Linked DNA regions of Homo sapiens: regions 1, 2, 4, 5 and 6 are each linked to region 3. The links come from fine-mapping of genetic effects on gene expression. A gene starts in region 3. Each other region holds a variant in brackets. All regions are shown on one strand. Distances are from middle to middle.

Region 1 (4,087 bases), 22 kb after region 3:
CCTTTAAACCACCAATTTGGCCATTTCAACCCTCTACCTTCAGGAGCCCACACACCCCCTAGGCTGGCATCAGGGCCTGTGGCCTTTTGGTTCCCACTGCCCTCACCCCAGCCCTGCACACTGCAAGTGCCAGACTGTCACGTATGCCCCCATCACATAGGCTCATCTGAGCCTCCTGCTCTTTCTCCCAGCTCTGCCCCGATCCTTCTGTTTGGCCTGCCCTTTCACCTCATGAAGCTTTCCCTGACCTCCAACCAGGCACAGCAATCTCCTCTTTGCCCCTACATCTTCCAGGAAGTCTCTCCTGATTCGACCTCAAATTACTCCCTGTTTGGTGCTCTAGCTGAGACACCAAGCTGGGATGGGTGGCTGGTGTTGGGAGAGGGAGAGATCACAGCCAGGAGAGATAAAGGGCCAAAGTGATAGAGGGGTCCAGCGTCCATGAGGCAAATTCCGGTCCCAGCTCCTCTGTGGACTGGCCATGTGGCCCTGAGGCCTGGGGTACCTCTTGACCTCAGTTGGCCTGTGGGACACTTGGGGGCTTGGACAGCAGGGCTCCTGGAAGGTGGAAGCCTGGACGAAGGCCACCGGTTGCACACCTGGCCTTGAGAGAAGGAAGAAGTGGGCTTCTGTGCAACCTGGTTTCACAGTTCAAGTGTTGCCCCAGTGGCCTGTTGGTCAAGCAGGGCTTGCACATCAGGTCTTTTATGGCTGTTGGGAAAAGGGCCATCCAGGGATATCAGACCTCTCAGGGCTCTCCTGCTTCCTCCACCCTTCTGACTGGCTTCAGGATCCCCAAGAAGCCAAACCGGGGAGAAGCAGATGGCAATGTTAGTCCTTAGGCTAGGGCGTGAGAGCTGCATGCTCCTGTGTTCCTCTAGGTCAGATCTGGCATATTCAGAGCCCCTTTCCAACTGCCTCAAGAGGACGTTCCACTTCGGCCAGTGCTGGACACGCCCTCACATGAAATCAGCCAGAGCCCAAGCAGCTTGCATAGGCCCTCTGATACAACTGCAGAAGTCTGGACTCAGGGGCACTTGCTTTCCCTCTCAGGGCCATCGCACAAGGTCCAGGCTTCCCAGGTTCCAGGAGTGAGTCCTGCCCTCGGCACATGCAGGTCGGTGTCCACTACCTGAGGTAGGGCGGCTGACTTCAGACCTTTAGAACCCATGGCTGCCCCTTCCTCCTAGAGAGGGAGAAAGGAGGCTCTCACCAGCTCGCCTTTTTCATAATGGCTCACCCCATTAATAGAGTGATCAGAAGATTCTAGGCAAGGCGGAATGAGAAAAGAAAAGTGAGGCTTAGCCGGGCGCGGTGGCTCACGCCCGTAATCCCAGCACTTTGGAAGGCCGAGGTGGCCTGATCATGAGGTCAGGAGATTGAGACCATCCTGGCTAACACAGTGAAACCCCGTCTCTAGCTGGGTGTGGTGGCATGCGCCTGTAGTCCCAGCTACTTGGGAGGCTGAGGCAGGAGAATGGTGTGAACCCAGGAGGCGGAGCTTGCAGTGAGCTGAGATGGCGCCACTGCACTCCAGCCTGGGCAAGAGTGTAAGACTCCGTCTCAAAAAAAAAAAAAAAGTTAGGCTTTTCCACATCAAGACTTGAGGGCTAGATAAATGTCCCTTCACAAAGGCCTGGGCAGCCCCTGTCCCTCTGTCTCTCTATCTCTCTCTCTTTCCTCTCTCTCTCTGAATCTCCCACCCTGACTTCTCTAAGTGGCCCCTTCCTCTCCTGCAGACCCAGGAGGCTCCAACTCCTACACAATGTGATCAGGGAACCTGGTGCACTGGGACTGCTGAAGGCTCTGAGAGACTTTCCACAGATGAGCAGATGCTGGAGCTACCCTCTCCCACTCCACAATCCCTCCCCCATTGGCGAACAAAGCCCAGCTTAGCCCCCACTCTGCGTTCCCTCTCTGGCTCCGTGTCTGCAGCCCTGGTTGTCCTGGTGGAAGCACCCACCTCCTCAGGCCTGCTTGCCCCTGAGACAGCCTTCATCAGAATG[G/A]CCAACTTGTCTGAAAAGTAGAGAACCAAGCAGGCAGTTTGTTCATCCCCTTGGGGAGCACTGGGGAGGGAGTCCTGGGATGGGAATCCCAGGAACCATATTCGTCACCAGCCTCTGTCTCTGTGGGTGAGTCACTGTCCCTGTCCCTCCCTGTGCCCAGAATCTATAGTCAGCACAGAAAGCCCAGGGCTTTGCAGGCAAAGAGCCCAGGTTCCCTCATGAGGCTGACTGGGTTCCTGGCTCAGCCCTGCTGCGACCAGCTGTGTATCTGCATACCGATGTGTCTGCTCTCCTGCCTCCTCATCTGTAGAACAGGGATGATCATCACAATGTCTAGTTTGTAGAATTGTTGTGAGGGTCAAATACAACATGGTCTGTGGCCAGTACATGTGAATTGTTTTTGTTGTTATTAATGTGACCTGTTAGGTTAATGCTTCAGAAGTAAACATAGTGTGCTCCCAGAGATAGTAACTTTGTTGGCCAAGCATGGTGCTTCAGGACAGGAGTTCGAGACCAGCCTGGGCAACAGAGCGAGGCCCTGTCTCTACAAAAAAATTTTAAAATTAGCTGGGCATGGTGGTGTGCACCTGTGGTCCCAGCTACTTGGGAGGCTAAGGTGGGAGGATTGCTTGAGCCCAGAAGATGGAGGCTACCGTGAGCTGTGATCATGCCACTGTATCCAGTCAGGGCAACAGAGCAAGACCCTGACTCAAAAATAGAAAATTGGGGTGACTCAGGCCAAGAGCTAACTTCTGGTAAATTGCCTCCCTCCCTGAACCTTTCTCGTGCAAAAATTGGGACAGTAGCCCCAACCTTGTAGACAGCAATGCATTGGAGCAATGTATTGAATATATACTCAAAGGCAGACGTTTCCTTCCCTAAACCTGGGGCATGGGGCAGGGTATGCTTATACCCTGTGGCAGACAGGGAATGCCAATCACAGGTTCTGCCCAGACTCAGGACAAGTTCCTCCTTCTGCCTTTCTTTCACTTGCAGAATTGTATTGCCAAGAGACCTGGGGTGGAGGGTCTCAAGCACCGTCGATTACTAGCTGTGTGACTTCGAGCAAGTTGCCTTGTTTTCTTGATAATGTTCTCATATTTGTAGGATGGGAATGAGATGCCCTGCAGTGTTTGTTCAAATGCAACAGTGAGTAAGCAAGTGCATGTCCACTGTCAAGTCCTGTACTCCCGGGATGTTTTGGCAAGTGAGGTCAGGGTCAGGTCTCCTTACTTGGCAATGGCCTTAGCCCAACTCTTCCCCAACAAGATACATATGCACGCATGAAACTGTGCATATGTATCTTGTTGGGGAACTGTGCTCCCCTTCTTGCTAATAACATAACCTACTACCCCAGGCCCCTGTCATATTTTGGCTCAGACTCAGCCTCTCCAGGTTGTCCCCTGGATTTCAGCCCCCAGTTGGCATCCTCTGTGATGCGTCCCCCACCAACACCAGGCTAGGAGACAGCTCACCAACCCCACCTTTAGTCTCAGGCTGTGTTTATCCATCAGGCTAGTCCCAGGGGTAAGACCACAGTTGTCCTCAGACAAGAGTCATGAAGCCCTGGGATGCCCCTTAGACAAGGCTTCCCCAAGTTCTCCTTCTGTCCAGGCTCCTGATTATGGGGCTGCATCTCCTTCCCAGGCCAAGGGCTTCCCAAGTGTGACAGTCTTGTCTGTCCCTCAGACAGGGACTCCCAAGGGCAAGCCCCTGCATTCCCTTCAGCCCACAGACTCCCTAAGGTCAGGATTCCTTTCCTCACTGGGCCCCTCTCAGAATCGGCATTGGGCTCTGCCCTCAGAGGGCCCAGATGGGTAAGAGCCGCTCCCAGCAGGTCCAGACCCAAGTTCAGAAATCATTTGTCAAATGAAACACTACACAGCACGGGATAGTGATAGGCAGTTTCCAGTAAATGTGCCTTTGTTTCCTAGACTGATTCATAAGAAGGGCCTGGGACATGGTGTCCGGGGGTGGAGGCTCTGCCCAGCCATAAAGGAAAGACCTGGATATTGGATATACCACTCAGAGGAACCCGCTGTCGTCCTTTGCAGGGGAGAGGGACGGTCAAACCACAGCAT
Region 2 (4,087 bases), 41 kb before region 3:
TATAGGTTTGCCTGTCCCTACAAAGGTAATACAGATGCTCCTCAGCTTAACAATGAGGTTACATCCGGATAAACCCATCTTAAATTGAAAATACTATAAGACAAAAATGCATTTAATACACCTAAACTACTGGACATCATAGCTTAGCCTCGCCTACCTAAACGTGCTTAGAACACTTACATTAGGCCAGGCACGGTGGCTCATGCCTATAATCCCAGCACTTTGGGAGGCTGAGATGGGCAGATCACTTGAGGCCAGGAGTTCGAGACCAGCCTGGGCAACATGGTGAAACCCTGTCTCTACCAAAAATATATATATAAGCTGGGTGTGGTGGCACGTTCCTGTAGTCCCAGCTACTTGGGAGGCTGAGGTGGGAGGATTGCTTCAGCCCTGGAGAAGGTTGCAGTGAGCCAAGATTGCACCACTGCACTCCAGCCTGAGTGACAGAGTGAGACACTGCCACAAAAGCAAACAAACAAACAAAATACTAGTCTATGGTTGGGCAAAATTATCGGGCAGCACAGTGAACTGTAGCGTCCATCGTTTACCCTTGTAACGTGTGGCTGCCTGGGAGCTATGGCTCACTGCCACTGCCCAGCATCATGAGAGTATCACATTGCATATTGCTAGCCTGGGAAAAGATCAAAATTCAAAATTCTAAGTACAGTTTCTACTGAGTACTATAATTTTCATACCATCATAAAGTTGAAAAATGGAAGTCAAACCACTGTAAGTGGGGGACTTTCTGTGCTATGGATGACTGGGTGGTAACCGGGTCTCTGGCAGTGCAACCACAGTTGAGTGGCTTTTTTCTCTCTCAAAATAACATCTCTTCCCAGATACTAGACATGTTTTTCCTAAATAGTCTCAATCTGGGACGTTCGTATCTTATCCATGGCTCTGACCCCCAACTCTTTCCCATCTTTGGATGTTCCAGGTGGGGTTTCCCTACAAATTTCCAATGTAAAGAAACCTCACCCACAAATTTTAGATGATCCTGTAAGTGAAAAATGGCAAGAAAATGGAGAACTTGGATTTAAGGAAACAAAGACAATGAGTATAGACTGTTAAGTTTAATTATGACTTAAGGAGAAATATGTCAAGTTTAGGGAAATTTGGCAACTTATGGACATTTTGAAGGACTGGTAAAATACAAATTGATTTATAGGCTCTAGTTCTTTGCCAAAAGAGAGGAACAGAGGATACAGGAGAGTAAGAAGACAACTGAGATTATGAGTTCCCACAGAATATAAATTTGAAAGGGAACCCTCCCAACACAAATTATAATTCAGGTGAGAGCTCTTCCTCTGGTTTAGTGGTCCCAGGAGTCACAGGCTTACACTTGTCTCAATAGCTCTTGTGTCTATGTGATATGGTTTGGCTGTGTCCCCACCCAAATCTCATCTTGAATTGTAGCTCCCATAATTCCTACATGTTGTGGGAGGGACCTGGTGGGAGGTAATTGAATCTTGGGTTGGGTCTTTCCTGTGCTATTCTTGTGACAGTAAGTAAGTCTCATAAGACCTGATGGTTTTATAAACGGAATTTCCCCTATGCAAGCTCTCTTGCCTGCCACCATGTAAGACATGACTTTGCTCCTCATTTGCCTTCAGCCATGATTGTGAGGCCTCCCCAGCCATGTGAACTGTGAGTCAATTCAACTTCTTTTCTTTATAAATTGCCCAGTCTCAGGTATGCTTTACTAGCAGCATGAGAACAGACTAATACACTACGCTTCAAGGCCTCCCAAAAGCAGAGCATGAGATGGCGACTTGTGTGCAAGTAGTTTATTTTAGGAAGGGGTCTCAGAAAACAGGCATCAGGACACTAAGAGAGTAAAAGAAAGGAGAAGGGAAGGCCATCCCAAG[C/A]ATAGGGTATTGAGCTGGTTACCACTGTGGACAATGGGCTTCAATCTAGTTGGTGGTCCTCTGTCTCCCACCAAAGCCTAGGAGGCTGGTTGTTTGTCCAATGGTTTCATCATCCGTTGTCAGTGATTTGCCAGGGAGACCTAACCCATTTGCAGTCCCAGACTTGCATATGCCAGAAAGGCTGAGGGGCTCTTGCAGGCTTCCCACACTGCATCAGCAGAGAAGCTCCTAGAAGGAGCATGAGAGAAACGGTGAGGAGGTCTTTGATTTCACCTGAGTGCAGCTACGGTCAGGGTAGGAATGTGGGCCAAGAGGACGTGAGATGGGGCATAAAAGTTGTTCAGTGCCATCCTCCCCTGCCTGTGTTTGGGTCTGCCCATGCGCCAGCTCTGCATGTAGCTCAGCATATCAGAGAGTCAGGCAAGAACCTAGTGAGCCGCGATCTCTACTTAAGACTCAATATAAGTGGATTAGTGGAAAAGATAACATTTCCCACCATTACAACTGGGCCTGAAGCCATAATTGATTCTTATTACCTCCCTCCTTTATCAACCATATTATAGTTCCTGCCCCCAGAGCCAACCTTTACAGGTCGAAGATGCTTACCTACTGGGAAAACAGACTTTCACTTCCAAGAGGTCAGATCCCTTAGCTGACTTACCCTGATAGAGAGCTGCGATTGCTGCAAGTGCCCACTGATGGTTATGCCTGGGTATGGAAGCATTCACAGAACCTCCTGGGTTCAGATATACTTGAGTAGCAACATCACCAATGCATGATAATCAGGGTCAATGACCTACGTAAGTATAATGGCTCCTCCCTTTTCCTGCCAGCCTACCATCGTGGGAAAGCCAGAATGACCAAGTTAGTAACAACATTAGTTTAGCAGACACTGCCTGTGCTCTTTGGTAGAAACATCTCCCCACTCTGCCCCCACTAACAAGGAATTCTAAGCTGGAAGGATCCAATGTTCCAGGGATAAGAAGTACAAATGTTTACCAGGTACTATTTCTGCAGTGCCTTATCATAGAGGTTTCCAGCTTGGAAAATGTCAATAGGCCACGTTGTAATCCTCACCTGAGAGGTCTCTGGAGATGGGTCTGGTGTAGCAGACACCTAAATCTTGCTTGTATCAGAATTCGAATTTTTTTTTTTTTTTGAGACAGAGTCTTGCTCTGTCGCCAAGGCTGGAGTGCAGTGGCATGATCTCGGCTCACTGCAACCTCTGCCTCCTGAGTAGTGATTCTCCTGCCTCAGCCTCCTGAGTAGCTGGGATTACAGGTGCCAGCCACCTCGCCTGGCTAATTTTTGTATTTTTAGTAGAGATAGGGTTTCACCATGTTGGCCAGGCTGGTCTCGAACTCCTGATCTCAGGTGATCGACCCACATCAGCCTTCCAAAGTGCTGGGATTACAGGCATGAGCCACCACACCAGGCCAGAATTAGTCAGATTTTAGGAGACCAGAGGAATTTGAAGAACCAGGCTGCCTGGGGGCAAGGAATTGAACAGAACAGCCTCTCAGACCCAGACTCCAGATGTTTCCAGAATCCCAGGCTATAGCCAAGTACCATTACTTATTAGCTGTGTGAACATGGCCAAGTTATCTACATTTGTTTTTATTTGCTCATCTATAAGATAGGCATGCTATTGTTACCAGCATCATATATTTGGTAGTCTCTCTTCTTTGCTTGGGAACAGATCAGCTGGCAGAGATGGGGTTTCACTATGTTGGCCAGGCTGGTCTCGAACTCCTGACCTCAAGTGATCCGCCCACCTTGGCCTCCCAAAGTGCTGGGATTACAGATGTGAGCCACTGTGCCCAGCCAAGTGGGGCTTTTGAGCCAATCCAGAGTCCTGTTATGGCTCCCACTGCAGACTGTATAACGGTTCACGGATGTTTTACATGCTTGTACTGAGAATGCTCATGTATGTCACAGGATTCTCCCTTTCAGGGTTTTTCACATAAAGAGATCTCAGTTCCCTTCTGGCCGGCTCAACAGAAACAATATAGACTCCCAGGAGAAGGAGAAATCACAGCTTTAATGACTTAATGACTGTCAAAGACCTGATTGGACAAGGTTAATGAGGCAGAAAGGAAAAAGCCTGGATTGGGAGCTGGGCTTCAAGGACTGGTTCATCTTCCAAAGGTAGGTTTGGTAGTGAAAAAAAAAAAAAAAATACAAGCCGTTATGCAACTACTATCTGCCAGACACAAAAC
Region 3 (4,087 bases):
TCAGGTGATCTACCCGCCTCAGCCTCCCAAAGTGCTGTGATTACAAACGTGAGTCACCGCGCCCGGTCCATTGTCTTTACTTTCTTTAGCTTTGCTATCCAATTGAACTGGTCTTGGCACAGTAGGCAGAGACAAAGCCCACCACCCTCAAAGAGTGGATGGAAGGAGGCACAAGGGCTCCCACACAGGACAAACAGCTACATGCTGAACAATGGCTTGGCAAACTACACACAAGCCAAATCCAGCCTGCCACCTGTTGTTATACCACCCAAAGGCTAAGAATAGTCTTTACTTCAGAAAAAAAAAATTTTAACACAAAGATGAAGTCTCACTATGTTGCCCAGGCTGGTCTCAAACTTCTGGGCTCAAGTGATCCTAGCCTCAGCCTTCCAAAGTGCTGGGATTACAGGCGTGAGCCACCATGCTGGGCCAGTTTTTACATTTTTAATTGGCTGAAAAAAAAATCAGAAACAGAATATTTCATAATAATGAAAATTATATATGAAATTCAAATTTCCTTTTTTTTTTTTAGAGTCTCATTCTGTTACCCAAGCTGGAGTGCAGTCATGCGATCTCGGCTCACTGAAACCTCTGCCTCCAAGGTTCAAGCAATTCTTGCGCCTCAGCCTCAGAGTAGCTGGGATTACAGGTGTACGGCACCACACCCAGCTTATTTTATTTTATTTTATTTTTAAAGTAGAGATGGGGTGTTGCCATGTTGACCAGGCTGGTCTTGAACTCCTGGGCTCAAGAGATCCTCCTGCCTTGGCCTCCCAAAGTGCTGGGATTACAGGCGTGAGCCACTGCACTCAGCCAAAATTCAAATTTCAATGTCTATAAAGAAAGTTTTATTGGAACACGGCAATGCTCATTCGTTTACCTATGGTCTTTGGCTGCTTTCACACAACAGCAGACCACTAGTCGTAACAAAGACCGTGTGGCCTACAAAGCCTGAAACATTTACCACCTGGCCCTTAAAAGAAAACGTTTGCAAGACCAGGTGCAGTGGCTCACGCCTATAATCCTAGCACTTTGGGAGACCGAGGCGGGAGGATCCCTTGAGCCCAGGAGTTGGAGACCAGCCTGGGCAACATAGGGAGACCCTGTTTCTAAAAAAACCAAACAGAAAAAAATTTGCCCAGCCCTGTTCTAGACTGTTCCTGTTGTTACATCCAAAGTCATTTGGGGCCGGGTGTGGTAGCTCCCACCTGTAATCCCAACACTTTGGGAGGCCGAGGCAGGTGGATCATCTGGGGTCAGGAGTTCAAGACCGGCCTGGCCAACATGATGAAACCCCGCCTCTACTAAAAATACAAAAAAATAGCCGGGCGTGGTGGCGTGTCCCTGTAATTCCAGCCGCTTGGTAGGCTGAGGCAGGAGAATCGCTGGAACCTGGGAGAAAGAGGTTGCAGTGAGCAGAGATCGCCCACTGCACTCCAGCCTGGGCTACAGAGCAAGACTCTGTCTCCAAAAAAAAAGTCTTTTGGGCCGGGTGGGGTGGCTAACACCTGTAATCCCAACATTGTGGGAGGCCAAGGTGGGTGGATTGCTTGAGGCCAGGAGTTCGAGACCAGCCTGGCAAATATGGCGAAATCCCCTCTCTACTAAAAATACAACAGCCGGGGTGGTGAGGCGCCGCCTGTAATCCCAGCTACTCCGGAAGCTGAGGCACGAGAATCACTTGAGCCTGGGAAAGCGGAGGCTGCAGTGAGCCTAGATCCCGCCACTGCACTCCGGACCGACTCAAAAAATATAAAAATATAATATACTCCGGGCGCGGTGGCTCACGCCTGTAATCCCAGCACTTTGGGAGGCCGAGGTGGGCGGATCACGAGGTCTGGAGTTCAAAACCAGCCTGGCCAACATGGTGAAATCCCCGTCTCTACTAAAAATACAAAAATTAGCCAGGCGTGGTGGAGGGCGCCTGTAATCCCAGCTGCTCGGCAGGCTGAGGCAGAGAACTGCTTGAACCCGGGAGACGGAGATTGCAGTGAACGGAGATCGCGCCACTGCACTCCAGCCTGGGCGACAGAGCGAGACTCCGTCTCAAAATAAATATGATATAATATAATAATACAAAATGCTGTTCTTCAGTTGCACTCCACACATCTCAAATGCTCAGCAGCCATTTATGGCCAATGACTGCCGGAGTGCACAAGTGCAGGATGCCCGGTGAAGAGTCGTGGAGTGAGCACCGTGGAGACTGTACGGGACACCTAGGGAGGAACCTGGCCCCCCAGGGGAGTAAGAGCCGCTGTAGGGGTAGTCAGCGCCTCACACAGCTCGCACCCCACGCGCATCCCTGGTGGATACGGCCGACGCCTGCGCGGCGCCTGCGGCTGGAGCACCGAATGGGGGAGGCGATCTCGCGGCCCCGACTCACCTTCCGCAGTCCAGCCCAGTAGCTGCTCCCGCGGGGCCCACATCTGCGCGCGCACGCACGCACGAAGCAAACGAGGTAGCAGCACCGTGTGTGAAACGGATTAGAATGCGCACCGCGGGCCACTGGCGGCGCCAGAAGAAAGAAGCAGGACTGGGTGAAGTGCGTCACCGCGCGGCGCGCAGCCTGCCGGGAAGCGTAGTTCTCGGGGCGAAATGCGGCTTGTGCAGGGCGAGAGAAAATGCTGAGGCGCACTTTGACCTTCTAGGTCCCCCTCGGCCGCAATATTTGGGGTTGTGCTTACCACAGGTACCCATAAGCAAAATATAGTGTTGTTTTCCATGGTTGTAAACATTATATAAATACACTTACAATGCCTGCTACTAGCTCTTTTGCGCAGTTCTATAATGACACGTGTTGACCTGTTCATTGTGTGTTCACTGCTGTGTGGTATCTAATGTAGAAATACACCAGGACTCCAATTGGACAGACTCATGCGCATCCATGGAGAGCTTCTCAAGGACAGTGGTTCGCAAACTTGTTGTTGTTAAAATCCTTTTACACTCTTAAAAATTACTGAGGACCCCAAAGAGCTTTTGAAACCGCCTTTGCAAAATTATACCTAAGGAAATTATGATGTTATAGGAGTTATTAAGAAATTATTTTAAGCAGATAGAGAAGGAAAGGGGTCCTTGGGAAGTTTTTGTTTCTTTTAAAGCAGCTCCAGAAAGGTTTCTTGTCTAGCAGGAAAGCCTGGGCTCCTAGAGCAGGATGGCAAGCTTTGATATGGAAATACAGGCCATTAGAAACTGGACGCACCCAAACATGGCGATTCCCGCCGTCCTTTTCTTTGCCCTGACATGTGCCTGGCAACATGGCCACCCCCCACATATTCCCACGTGTGTAGAACTTCATGGAGCCCTACATTTGCATATTAAAAAGCTAGGGTGGGAGGGCCAGGTTTTTGGCTGCCACATAAATGACACATCTGATCAAACTAATCCCCTGAGCCCTATGGAAACCAGACACCGCCTCCTCCAGCATCCTCAGATAAGCAGCCACTTTTCCGCACACGGCGCTTTCTCTTTGTTGGAATCCCCGCTCCCTCTGTCTCTGTATGGGGGAGCTGTTTTCGTCTTCCTTCCTTCTTTCTTGCCTATTAAACTTTTCGCTCCTTAAAACCACTCCACGTGTGTCTGTGTTATTAAGCCTATCAGAGACCAAGGACCCTGGTGTTCCTCCAGTCATCAGAGCCTTATCAATGACAGTAAAAGATATCAGATCTAACCCACCTCATCTTCCTTTCAACCTCTAAACTGTCTTTGTCCACTTCTGGGCATAGGCCAAAGTAGCCTTGGGAAGGAATTCAGTTTATAGCTTAAATAATAGCCCTTCCCAAGGGCTAAACTGTTCTTGTAAAATGAATGAAAGGCCACCAGCCACCAAATTAGGATGAGAAGGGCTGGAATTCTAAATATTACCAGCCATTATTCCAGAGGCCCTAAGACGCACAACTTCCCCAATTACTCTTTTGAAGCACAACTTCCCCAATTACTCTTTTTTTTTTTTTAGGGAAAAGAACACGGAGTCTCACTCTGTCTACCATGCTGGAGTGCAGTGGTGCCATCTCGGCTCACTGCAACCTCCCTCTCCTGGGTTCAAGCGATTCTCCTGCCTCAACCTCCTGAGTAGCCGGGATTACAAGCA
Region 4 (4,087 bases), 410 kb before region 3:
CCATCCAGCCCATCGCTGGCCTGCGCTGCCGCTGCCCGCCCGGATTCACGGGAGACTTTTGCGAGACCGAGCTCGACCTCTGCTACTCCAACCCATGTCGCAACGGCGGAGCCTGCGCGCGGCGCGAGGGAGGCTACACGTGCGTCTGCCGCCCGCGCTTCACCGGTGAGCAGGGCGCCGGGCCAGAGCTGGGGGAAGCACGGGCCAAGGCTGGGGGCGGGACCACAATGCGAGTGAGTACTGGGAGTCACTTCTGAGGCCACGGCCTGGTATGGACGCGCTTAGGCCAGAAGCCGTAGAGCGTGGCCGGAAGGGGCCGCCGCCGAGGCAGCGATGAGACTGGGGAGGGGGCGGGGCCAGACGGAAGGGGCGTGTCCACCGAAGAGGGCGACCTTTCGGGGGTCTTGGCACCCGGCCTCTGGGCGCGCGGTCTTTGAAGGGGCCGGAGCAGGGGCGGGCGTGGGCGTGACCGCCTCTGACCGCGGCTTGGCCCCCAGGAGAGGACTGCGAGCTGGACACCGAGGCCGGCCGCTGCGTGCCGGGCGTCTGCCGCAACGGGGGCACCTGCACCGACGCGCCCAACGGCGGCTTTCGCTGCCAGTGCCCGGCAGGCGGCGCCTTCGAGGGCCCGCGCTGCGAGGTGGCTGCGCGCTCCTTCCCGCCCAGTTCGTTCGTCATGTTTCGCGGCCTGCGGCAGCGATTCCACCTTACGCTGTCCCTCTCGTAGGTGCCCGCCCCGTGTCTGAGCGCCTCCCCGCCGCCCCCACCTACCCGCCCTGACTCAGATTCCTGACTGCCCCGTCCTGGCATCCCCATGAGACACCGCCCCTCCCCTGACGCCCCGCCCGGGGTCTCCTGACCTCGCTGCACCCGCGTCCCCCCGGTCGGTCCCGCCGTCCCTCGTCGCTTCCTCTCTCGCCCCAGCCCCTTCTCCTCGCAGGGATGGTGGGTGTGAAGTGGTACCCTGCTCCTGACGCTCCCACCCCCGCAACCCCCTCCCACCCCGCCCAGGTTCGCGACAGTGCAGCAGAGCGGGCTGCTCTTCTACAACGGGCGCCTGAACGAGAAGCACGACTTCCTGGCCCTGGAACTCGTGGCTGGCCAAGTGCGGCTCACATATTCCACGGGTGGGTGCCCCGGATGTGACGGCGAAAGGGTGCGTGTGTGCTGGAGGACGCAGGGCCCAAGTCCCCTCAGGTTTGCTTCACTGTGCACCTGAGCACACACTCCACGCCATGCAAGCCCTGAAGACCTAGCTCCTTGGCCATTCCCTGTGGGAAGGTCCCTCCCTCCAAGAAGTCTGTTTCTCCTGTCTGTTCAAAGGCACTCTGAGCCAGCCATTGTGGTCACCAGTGGGGGGACTGATCTGATGCATCCAGGGTGGCCCTGGGAATGGTTGTGCTTATATGACGGGTGGGATGGGGCGACTCCGCTGCTCCTGATGATTCCACATGCATCTCCCCTCCAGGTGAATCCAACACCGTGGTCAGCCCCACAGTTCCAGGGGGCTTGAGTGACGGGCAATGGCATACAGTGCATCTGAGATACTACAACAAGGTGGGGGCCATCCCTGGCATCGGGTATGAGGGGAGTTGGGATGCTGACTTCTGCTCCTCAGGGGTTACTGGGGGCACTGTTGACTGGTGTGCCTGCGTCTTCAGCCCCGGACAGATGCCCTAGGGGGTGCACAGGGCCCCTCCAAGGACAAGGTGGCTGTGCTAAGCGTGGATGATTGTGATGTGGCCGTGGCTCTGCAGTTTGGTGCTGAGATTGGCAACTACTCATGCGCGGCTGCTGGTGTGCAAACAAGCTCCAAGAAGTGAGGCCCCTGCCCCCTAGTCCCCTTGTCCCCTGCCTACCAAAGCCCACTCCAACCCTTCACATCCCATTCCTCATCCCATCCTGCCAAACTCTCCCATCTTTCCCCCAAACCACCAAGATTCCCCTCTCCTCTCAAAGACCCTGAAAGCCTACTCACCCTAGCCCCCAATCCTGTATTCCACCCCATACTCCCTCCTCCCACACACAGTCCCCAGGCAGTCCTCCAAAGCCTC[C/T]ACCTCCCCACCCCAGTCTCACTAATGTCCCACATCCCCTCCGAGTCCCTTCATCTCATGTCCAGTCCCCCAGAGTCTTCACGTCTCCATCCCCTCCCCAGCCAGCCAGATGCCTCATTCTTTCATCATAGCTCTCAACCCCCATTCACCTACCTTTCCCCAGACCATCGGCCCATCACGGGTGCCCCTTTGCACCCCAACTGAAGTAAGATCCTAACTCCTTCCACAGCTCGGCCTTATTTTCCTCCCTCAATCACCCTACCCTCTGGGTCCTACCCCCCTGCTTCCTGTGGCCCCCCAGGAGCAACTCTACTCTGGCCCCAGTCCCACCAATGACCCAGACCCCTGATCCCCAGGTCCCTGGACCTGACGGGCCCTCTTCTTCTGGGAGGTGTCCCCAACCTCCCCGAGAACTTCCCCGTATCCCATAAGGACTTCATCGGCTGTATGCGGGACCTGCACATTGATGGCCGCCGAGTGGACATGGCGGCTTTTGTCGCAAATAATGGCACCATGGCAGGTAGGCCTGAAGCTTCCACCAGCCTAGCCCATGGCCCTGTCCCCATCATAGGGAGGAAGTGGAGGACTCCATACCTGACTTCAAGCCAGTCTCCTTTGGTGGCAAGCACCATGCTACAGCCCAGATTTTAGGGCCTGACTCTTACCAACCCCACTCATCGAAAGAAAATGGGAAATGGGGCTGAGATCTTGGTCTCTTTCAGCCCCTCTGGACACTAAAGTCCTGTCCAGCACTTGTGCCCCCCAACCCTTGTTCTCATGTCCGCCATGTGCTTTCCTCTCCCAGGCTGCCAAGCCAAGCTACACTTTTGTGACTCAGGCCCCTGCAAGAACAGTGGCTTCTGCTCGGAGCGCTGGGGCAGCTTCAGCTGCGACTGCCCTGTGGGCTTCGGCGGCAAAGACTGTCAGCTTAGTAAGTGGGCAGCATGGGGCAGAGGGGCCTGCAGGGTCAGATCTGTTCCTGGGGCAGGGGCTGTAACCCTGTTTCTCTTATCCACTCAGCTATGGCCCATCCCCACCATTTCCGTGGCAACGGCACACTGAGCTGGAACTTTGGAAGTGACATGGCTGTGTCTGTGCCATGGTACCTGGGGCTGGCATTTCGGACACGGGCAACGCAGGGGGTCCTGATGCAAGTGCAGGCTGGGCCACACAGCACGCTCCTTTGCCAGGTGTGTCCACCCTGCTCACCCCTATACCCTCAGTTCTCAGTCTCTTAGGCCGCCACTGACATTCTTGTGGGTTCAGGTTGGTCACACAGCATACTTTTCTGCCAGGTGTCCCAACCACACTTGACCCTGCTCTGGACCCTAGCCCTTGATTCTCTTTCCATCATTATATCCTCTGCAGGTGCAGGGCTCCAGCATAGCTCTCTCTTATGCAAGCTGCACCAACCCACCCACAACACCTGGTCCTATCCTCTGCCCCCTGACCCCATATCAGCAACATGATGTCCCCTGGCACAGTGCCCTTTGTGCCAGGTATAACCTTGACCCCACTGTTCTGACCTCTGATATTCCTGACCTCTGAGCCCTCTGATCTCACCTCCAAGTCCCAGCCCACATGGGGCTCTAACCCCAGGGCTATGCATCTCTGCCCACAGCTAGATCGGGGGTTACTGTCTGTGACAGTGACCAGGGGCTCGGGCCGTGCTTCCCATCTCCTTCTGGACCAGGTGACTGTCAGTGATGGCCGGTGGCACGATCTGCGGCTGGAGTTGCAGGAGGAACCAGGTGGCCGGCGGGGCCACCATGTCCTTATGGTCTCACTGGACTTTAGCCTCTTCCAGGTCTGGCCTCTGACCCCGGGGTAGTCTGTTCTCAGCCTTCCAACCAGATCCGCCTTATTTGACCCCACCTCTAGTCCAGCTCCTCTCAGTTCCCTCCACTGCACTGAGTCTGATGTTCTACCCCTAGTTCCCCACCATATATCCTTGCACTGAGCCCACCCACCAGCCAAGTTGGTCCACTCTCAAGCCCTCTTTGTGCCAGATTTGGGGCCTGGTCTTGGGGAAC
Region 5 (4,087 bases), 480 kb after region 3:
GGATCACTTGAGCCTGGCAGACAGAGATTGCAGTGAGCTGAGACTCTGTCTTAAAAAAAAAAAAAGAGTTCACTGTTTTTTTGTTGTTGTTGTCGTTGTCCAGGCTGGAGTGCAATGGCGCAGTCTTGGCTCACTGCAACCTCTGCCTCCCGGGTTCAAACTATTCTCCTGCCTCAGCCTCCCGAGGACCTGGGATTACAGGCGCCCACCACCACGCCCAGCTAATTTTTGTATTTTTAGTATAGACGGGGTTTCTCCATGTTGGCCAAGCTGGTCTCGAACTCCTGAACTTGTGATCCACCCGCCTCGGCCTCCCAAGGTGCTGGGATTACAGGCGTGAGCCACCGCACCCGGCCGAGTTCACTATTTGGACTTTTTTTTTTTTTTTTTAAATCAGAGTGGAGGCTGGGTGCGGTGGCTCACACCTTGTAATCCCAGCACTTTGGGAGGCTGAAGTGGGTGGATCACCTCAGGTTGAGAGTTCGAGACCAGCCTGACCAACATGGAGAAACTCCATGTCTACTAAAAATAAAAAATTAGCCGAGTGTGGTGGTACATGCCTGTAATCCCAGCTACTCAGGAGGCCGAGGCAGGAGAATCACTTGAACCCGGGAGGTGGAGTTTATAGTGAGCCGAGATTGTGCCCATTGCACTCCAGCCTGGGCAACAAGAGCGAAACTCCATCTCAAAAAAAAAAAGAGAAAAAGGAAAAGAAAAAAATCAGAGTGGAACCTTTTTTTTTTTTTTTTTTTTTCTTTTTGGAGACAGAATCATGCTCTGTTGCCCAGGCTGGAGTGCAGTGGTGTGATCTCGGCTCACTGCAACTTCCGCCTCCTGGGTTCAGGCGATTCTCCTGCCTCAGCCTCCCAAGTAGCTGGGACAACAGGTGCCCGCCACCACGCCCGGCTAATTTTGTTTTGTATTTTAGTAGAGACAGGGTTTCACTGTGTTAGCCAGGATGGTCTTGATCTGACCTCGTGATCCGCATGCCTCGGCTTCCCAAAGTGCTGGGATTACAGGCGTGAGCCACCATGCCCAGCTAGAGTGGAACTTTATATAGTAACTTCCCAAGTCATGCTGGATGTCGGACAGCTGGCTCTTGTTCTATCAAATGCTGAGAGATTTAGAAAGAACCAAGCATTTCATAAGGCTAAGGCTAAAGGTATATTGCATTACCAAACACATGATTTGAAACAAAAAAAATTGCTAAGAAGATGTGGGTATAAAACAAAAAAGAAAAATATATTTTACCTTCACTACAAGTAAAGTTTCTAATTTTCCCACAAGCCCTCCAAGGCTTTAGTACGTGTGCATACATAATGTAAACATAATTGTAATAATAGGATAGAGCTGTTTTTCTTTTTTTGAGACAGGGTCTCTCTCACTCTGTCACTCAGGCTGGAGTGCAGTGGCATGATCTCAACTCACTGCATATTCGACCATGACTTTCCAGACTCAGGTAGATCCTCCCACCTCACCCTCCTGAGTAGTTGGGACAAGCATGCACCACTACACCCTGCTAATTTTTGTTTTTTTTTTTTGTAGAGACAGGGTTTTGCCCTGTTGCCCAGACTGTTCTCGAACTCCTGGGCTCAGGCAGTCTTTCCGCCTTGGCCCCCCAAAGTCCTGGGTTTACAGACATGAGCCACAGTGCCC[G/A]GCCTAGAGCTGTTTTTTTATTCTGCATTTTAAAATGGATTATAAGCATCTGTGTTTAAAAAAACAGGAAAGCTCTGAGAGTAAGAAATATAGAAGGTTAAGTGAGAGTCTCAAGTAACTGGATTTTAATTGTGTTTGGGAGATATCCAAGATTTTGTTTTCTTTTTTACGTGACACAGCTCCAGGAGATCTTGAGAACATGTACCCTTATGCCCAAAATTGTAAACCTGTCATTGCACTTAAAAAAATCATTTAGGCTGGGGGCAGTGGCTCACGCCTGTAATCCCAGCACTTTGGGAGGCTGAGGTAGGTGGATCACCTGAGGTCAGGAGTTCGAAACCAGCCTGGCCAACATGGTGAAACCCTGTCTCTACTACAAATACAAAAATTACCCGGGTGTGGTGGCAGGCGCCTGTAATCCCAGCTGCTCGGGAGGCTGAGGCAGGAGAACTGCTAGCCCCCAGGAGGCGGAGGTTGCAGTGAGCCAAGATCATGCCACTGTACTCCAGCCTGGGCGACAGAGTGAGACTCCATCTCAAAAAAAAAAAAAAATTAATTTGCAACTGGAGGAAAAATGTAGAATATTATATTCCTGAACTGATTTCACTCTGCTGTTGTATGAATTTCAGAATGGAGAGACTATCTTTGGGAACATGGGACTAGGAAGGAGACCGTAAGTGTTGTATATATATTTGAAGTGAGCATTTGAGTTTGTAGCTTAGAACTCTGTCTGATGAAAGTGGAATATGAGCACCTGTTTAAGCAAAATAGTGTAGGAAATTTACTTGTGGAATAATGGTTTAGTTTCTTTCTTTTTTTTTTTAAACAACTTCCTATTGTAAAATATATAGAAAGTGAGTAAAATAAATTTTGACTTAAATAATTATAAAGAGAACATCCATTTAACCACAGTCCAGGTCAGAAATTGCTAACAACCCTAACAAACGTATGTGTTCCTTCCCCAACCATAAACTCCTCTTTTTCCCCACAGATAATCTTTTCCTTGCCGTTTTTTTTTTTGTATGTTTTTGTTTTTGAGACAGAGTTTCTCTCTTGTTGCTCAGGCTGGCGTGCAATGGCACGATCTCGGCTTACTGCAACCTCTGCCTCCCGAGTTCAAGCGGTTCTCTTGCTTCAGCCTCCTGACTAGCTGGGATTACAGGCATGCGCCACCACGCCCGGCTAATTTTGCATTTTTGGTAGAGACAGGGTTTCTCCATGTTGTTCAGGCTGGTCTTGAACTCCCGACCTCAGGTGGTCTGCCTGCCTCAGCCTCCCAAAGTGCTGGGATTACAGGCGTGAGCCACCGCGCCTGGCCTCCTTGCTTTTCTTTATAGGTATCACTGTGTTAGTGTGCATCCCTGAATAATATAGTATTATGTTTTGCTTGTTTTTGAATTTTGTACTAATGAACTCATAGATATTCTTGTAACTTGGGGGCCATGTAGGAAATAATTTGCCAACATGGAGAAAACAAATAGTCTAACTGAACTGCTCAGCCACATACGTGTGGATAAAACAAATTACTGTAGAAGAATAGTTAAATCTGAAAAATCTAGTTAGCTAGCTTCTGGCCTTTATAATTCATGTGCAAGGGCAGTGAGCCTACATGATGTAGCATGACCAGTTAGATAGAGCTCAGTAGGCTGCAGAATATGGGCTGCTGTGCTGGAGACATGGACTAGTATTCCAGGCAGAGGGCATGCTGGACCAGGTGGTGGGCAAGGCTCTGGAAAGCTATATGATCAACTTCAGTGCAGGTTTGTACTCCGTACCATGTGGATTCGTAGGTAGAAACCTGAGTTCACTGACATTGTACTTATTTATTTGATTGATGTTTCATTTATTTATTTTTTCTATATTTTTACTTTTTTCATCTTTCTCTCTCTCCCTGTAATGTGTCCTACAGCTTTGCTGAAGTATGGCCAATGTACAGTGAACAGTACATATTTAGCTGGGCACACTGGCTCATGCCTGTAATCCAGACTACTTGGGAGACTGAAGTAGGAGGGTCACATGAGGCAAGGAGTTTGAGACCAGCTTGAGCAACATATTGAGACCCTATTTATCAGAAAAACTAAAAATTAGTCGTGCATGGTGGTGTGTGATTGTGGTCCCAACTACTTGGGAGCTGACCCAGGAGGATCACTTGATCCCAGGAGTTAGAGGCTGCCATGAGTTACAGTAGTACTACTGCTGCACTCTAGCCTGAGTGATAGAGCGAAATCCCATCAATATCTCTTTCTCTTTTTTTTTTCCTAAAGAGAAAGGCTGGGTGCAGTGGTTCATGCTTATAATCTTAGCATTTTGGGTGGCTGAGGCTAGAGGAGTCCTTGAGCCCAGGAGTTTGAGACCAGCCTGGACAACATGGTGAGAGCCGTCTACAAAAAATAAAAAAAAATTAGCTTGGTGTGGTGGTGCATGCCTGTGG
Region 6 (4,087 bases), 92 kb before region 3:
TATTGAACCACTTTAGCTTGCTATCCTGTCCTATCCTTCCTTAGAATCAGAGGAAATACCGGGCACCTGTCAGCCAGTTAAAAATGATTAGCATGGCCACTGGACTTAAGACTCAGCTGTGAGGCTTTCTGGGAAAAGGCTTTCTAACAACCCCCAACCCTTTGGGGTTAGGAGCGTTGGTCTGCCTGGAACCAGCTTCCGCTTTCACAATTTCCTGGGGGGAAGCCGAGGGCCGACTAGAGGCAGAAAGCTGTCGTCCTGAACTCCCGGCATTGGCTGGTTGAGATCATGGTGCAGCCAGAAGTCTCTACTCAACAGTTGCCCACGTGTGCACCCCTACCTTTCCTTCTGACCCATACCTCCTGGGTCCCGACCATGACTTTCTTGAAAGTGTAGCCCCAAAAATTCTCCTTACCTCTGAATCTACTTCCTCCAATCCCTGCCTCCTAGGTACTAATGCTTCAGACTTTCATTTCCTCTCCCAAGTATTAGAGCAAGTTGTATCTCCAAAGAGATCTAAGGAAGCTCTATGCTGTGGCCTTAGATATCTAGGCTATGAACCCAGGGAGTCTTGCCCCTGGTGTCCCTCCCAATTTAGGTATATAGCTGTCAACATGGGCTGTTATGTGGGACCCATTCCCCACCACCCTTGCCAGGGCCCCAAGTTTGTAAATAGCTAGGAAGATCGCTCTCCCATTGTGTAAGATGCTCTCCTCCCCTAATTTCTACCCAGTTTACTACCCCCTGCAATACAATCTCCAAGCCTTGGCTCCTTGGCCAGGCCCTTAGAACTGATAACCCAGTATTTTAACAACTGGAACTGAGTCTACAACAACATAATAGATCAGGATGAAAACGAATTTGAGTAAATTAAAGGGAGGCACATGTTCCTATAGTGGCAAACTGGGGCAACAAGTGAACGTCCTTCCACTGCGTTTCCAAAATCCATCTAAAAAAAGACAGACAGAGAGAGGAAGAGGCAGAAAGTCAAAGAGAGAAAGAAAGAAAAAAGGGAAAGAGAGAGGTAGTAAAGAAAAAACAGTGTACCCTATTCCTTTAAAAGCCAAGGTAAATTTAGAACCTATAATTGATAATTAAAGGTCTTCTCCACGACCCTATAATACTCCAATACTACCTTGTTGTCAGTGTAAACAAGGGCGTAGCCCGAAAACACTGAGACCACTGACAACCCATAGCCTTCCTATCAAAAATCCTGAACCCAGTAACCCGTGGATGGCCCAAATGCATTCAATCTGTAGTGGCAACTGCTTTGCTAACAGAATAAAGTAGAAAAATAACCTTTAGAGGAAACCTCATTGTGAGCACACCTCACCAGTTCAGAACAATCCTAAGACCAAAAAAAAAAAAAAAAAAAGGTAGCTTACTAGCTCAAAATTCTTAAAGTATGGGGCTATTCTGTTAGAAAAAGGTGATTTAACACCAACCACTGATAATTCCCTTAACCCAGCAGATTTCCTAACAGGGGATTTAAATCTTAATTGCCATGCAAAGGTCCAACCAGACCTAGGAGGAACTTCCTTTAGGATAGGACGATAGATGGTTCCTCCCAGGCGATTGAGGAAAAAACCACAATGGGTATTCAGTAATTGATAAGGAAACTCTTGTGGAAGCAGAGTTAGGAGAATTGCCTCATAATTGGTCTGCACAAACTGCGAGCTGTTTGCACTCAGCCAAGCCTTAAAGTACTTACAAAAAGAGCAAGCCCATCTTTTTCTCCTCGCTCTCCTTCTC[G/A]TAGGAAAAAGGCACATAGGATAAACAGGAGCCATCTCTCATATTTCGTACCCAAAAGGACTTAATCCAGGGCAACAAAATCTTAAGTTCGATAATTAAGGCATATTCCTACAAAGGAAAAGGACAAAGGCCCTAGTGGGCAAAAACTCTATCTCAATCCTGACTCAAAAGGTTACCTACACCCTCTCTGAAACGAATTTGCATAAGAACTGTTGTTTATGAAAATGCATCTTGATGGGGCAACTGGGTTGTTATGAAATACTCAGAAACCCAGCCCAGCTCTAGAACTCACTCCTGAGTGCAAAGGCAATGTCAGGCACGCTGGTAAAGGACCACTAGAATCCAGCAGCCCAGACCCCTTTCTTTGTGGTCAAGAAGGGCAGGAAAACAGGTGCAGGACTGCTACATCGGTGAGTGTAACTAATCTGATAAGCAGAGGTCCGTGGGTGGTTACGCACCCTGAAAAGGAATAAGCATTAGGACCACAGAGGACGCTCTAGGACTAATGCTCATCAGAAAATGACTAGGGGTGCTGGCATCCCTATGTTCTTTTTAAACGTTCCCCCCTCCCAGGCAAAAACGCCCCTAAGATGTATTCTAGAGAATTAGGACCAATTTGACCCTCAGATGCTAAGAAAGAAACGACTTATATTCTTCTGCAGTACCCCTGGCCACAATATCCTCTTCAAGAGGGAGAAACATGCCCTCCAAGGGAAGTATAAATTATAACACCATCTTACAGCTAGACTTCTTTTGTAGAAAATAGGGCAAATGGAGCGAAGTGCCATATGTGCAAACTTTCTTTTCATTAAGAGACAACTCACAATTATGTTAAAAGTGTGATTTATGCCCTACAGGAAGCCCTCAGAATCTACCCCCCTGCCCCGGCGTTCCCCCGGCTCCTTCCCCAACTAATAATGACCCCCCTTCAACACAAACGGTGCCAAAGGAGATAGAGAAAGGGGTAAACAATGAACCAAAGAGTGCCAATATTCCCAGATTATGCCCCCTTGAAGTGGTGGGAGGAGGAGAATTCAGCCCAGAGTGTGTGTACCTTTTTCCCTCTCAGACTTGAAGCAAATTAAAATAGACCTAGGTAAATTCTCAAATAACCCTGATGGCTATATTGATGTTTTACAAGGGTTAGGACAATCCTTTGATCTGACATGGAGAGACATAATGTTACTGCTAGATCAGATACTAACCCCAAATGAGAGAAGTGCCGCTATAACTGCAGCCCAAGAGTTTGGCAATCTCTGGTATCTCAGTCAGGTCAATGATAGGATGACAACAGAGGAAAGAGAACGATTCCCCACAGGCCAGCAGGCAGTTCCCAGTGTAGACCCTCAATGGGACGCAGAATCAGAATGTGGAGATTGGTGCCGCAGACATTTGCTAACTTGCATGCTAGAAGGACTAAGAAAAACTAGGAAGAAGCCTATGAATTATTCAATGATGCCCACTATAACACAGGGAAAGGAAGAAAATCCTACTGCCTTTCTGGAGAGACTAAGGGAGGCATTGAGGAAGCATACCTCTCTGTCATCTGGATCTATTGAAGGCCAACTAATCTTAAAGGGTAAGTTTATCACTCAGCTGCAGACATTAGAAAAAAACTTCAAAATCCGCCTTAGGCCTGGAACAAAACTTAAACTAAGAACTTGGCCTCAGTTTTTATAATAGAGATCAGAAGGAGCAGGCAGAACTGGACAAACGGGATAAAAAGAAGGCCACCGCTTTAGTCATGGCCTTCAGGCAAGTGGACTTTGGAGGCTCTGGAAAAGTGAAAGGCTGGGCAAATCGAATGCCTAATAGGGATTTGATTCCAGTGCGGTCTACAAGGACACTTTAAAAAAGATTGTCCGAATAGAAATAAGCCACCCCCTCATCCATGCCCCTTATTTCAAGGGTATCACTGGAAGGCCCACTGCCCCAGGGGATGAAGGTCCTCTGAGTCAGAAGCCACTAACCAGATGATCCAGCAGCAGGACTGAGGGTGCCTGGGGCAAGCGCCAGCCCCTGGCATCACCCTCCCCAGGTATGCTTGACCACTGAGGGCCAGGAGGTTAACTGTCTGCTGGACACTAGCGCGGCCTTCTCAGTCTTACTCTCCTGTCCCAGACAACTGTCCTCCAGATCTGTCACTATCCGAGGGGTCCTAGGACAGGCAGTCACTAGATACTTCTCCCAGACACTAAGTTGTGACTAGGGAACTTTACCATTTTCACATACCTTTCTAATTATGCCTGAAAGCCCCATTCCCTTGTTAGGGAGAGACATTCTAGCAAAAACAGGGGCCATTATACACTAGAATTAGGAGAAGAAAAAAAGGTAA

The links.
Region 1: its variant is fine-mapped to the expression of ZNF589 in whole blood (TOPMed, PIP 0.92).
Region 2: its variant is fine-mapped to the expression of ZNF589 in whole blood (TOPMed, PIP above 0.99).
Region 4: its variant is fine-mapped to the expression of ZNF589 in subcutaneous fat (GTEx, PIP above 0.99).
Region 5: its variant is fine-mapped to the expression of ZNF589 in spinal cord (GTEx, PIP above 0.99).
Region 6: its variant is fine-mapped to the expression of ZNF589 in whole blood (TOPMed, PIP above 0.99).

What each region holds. Positions count from the first base shown.
Region 1 is chr3:48,217,831-48,221,917 of GRCh38, reverse strand. No RefSeq gene overlaps it. Among named protein-coding and RNA genes, the nearest start is that of CAMP, 3.6 kb to the left of the region's middle. The variant G/A (reference allele first, on the strand shown) is at 2,007.
Region 2 is chr3:48,280,858-48,284,944 of GRCh38, reverse strand. No RefSeq gene overlaps it. Among named protein-coding and RNA genes, the nearest start is that of NME6, 18 kb to the left of the region's middle. The variant C/A (reference allele first, on the strand shown) is at 1,869.
Region 3 is chr3:48,239,511-48,243,597 of GRCh38, reverse strand. ZNF589 (zinc finger protein 589) reads right to left here and starts at 2,494. Exons shown (of 4, transcript NM_016089.3): 1 at 2,384-2,494. The coding sequence starts at 2,426. RefSeq lists enhancers at 2,325-2,619, 1,810-2,727, 3,045-3,339.
Region 4 is chr3:48,652,776-48,656,862 of GRCh38, reverse strand. CELSR3 (cadherin EGF LAG seven-pass G-type receptor 3) reads left to right here. Exons shown (of 35, transcript NM_001407.3): 2 at 1-165; 3 at 498-723; 4 at 1,012-1,127; 5 at 1,469-1,557; 6 at 1,662-1,819; 7 at 2,411-2,574; 8 at 2,860-2,985; 9 at 3,075-3,244; 10 at 3,676-3,861. Among named protein-coding and RNA genes, the nearest start is that of CELSR3, 8.1 kb to the left of the region's middle. RefSeq lists a silencer at 335-564 and an enhancer at 1-649. The variant C/T (reference allele first, on the strand shown) is at 2,055.
Region 5 is chr3:47,763,857-47,767,943 of GRCh38, reverse strand. The region is part of intron 2 of SMARCC1 (SWI/SNF related BAF chromatin remodeling complex subunit C1); the gene reads left to right. Among named protein-coding and RNA genes, the nearest start is that of SMARCC1, 16 kb to the left of the region's middle. The variant G/A (reference allele first, on the strand shown) is at 1,657.
Region 6 is chr3:48,331,610-48,335,696 of GRCh38, reverse strand. It overlaps SPINK8 (serine peptidase inhibitor Kazal type 8 (putative)), which reads left to right and starts at 2,036. Exons shown (of 8, transcript NM_001080525.3): 1 at 2,036-2,162; 2 at 3,226-3,331. RefSeq lists a silencer at 1,491-1,691. The variant G/A (reference allele first, on the strand shown) is at 1,753.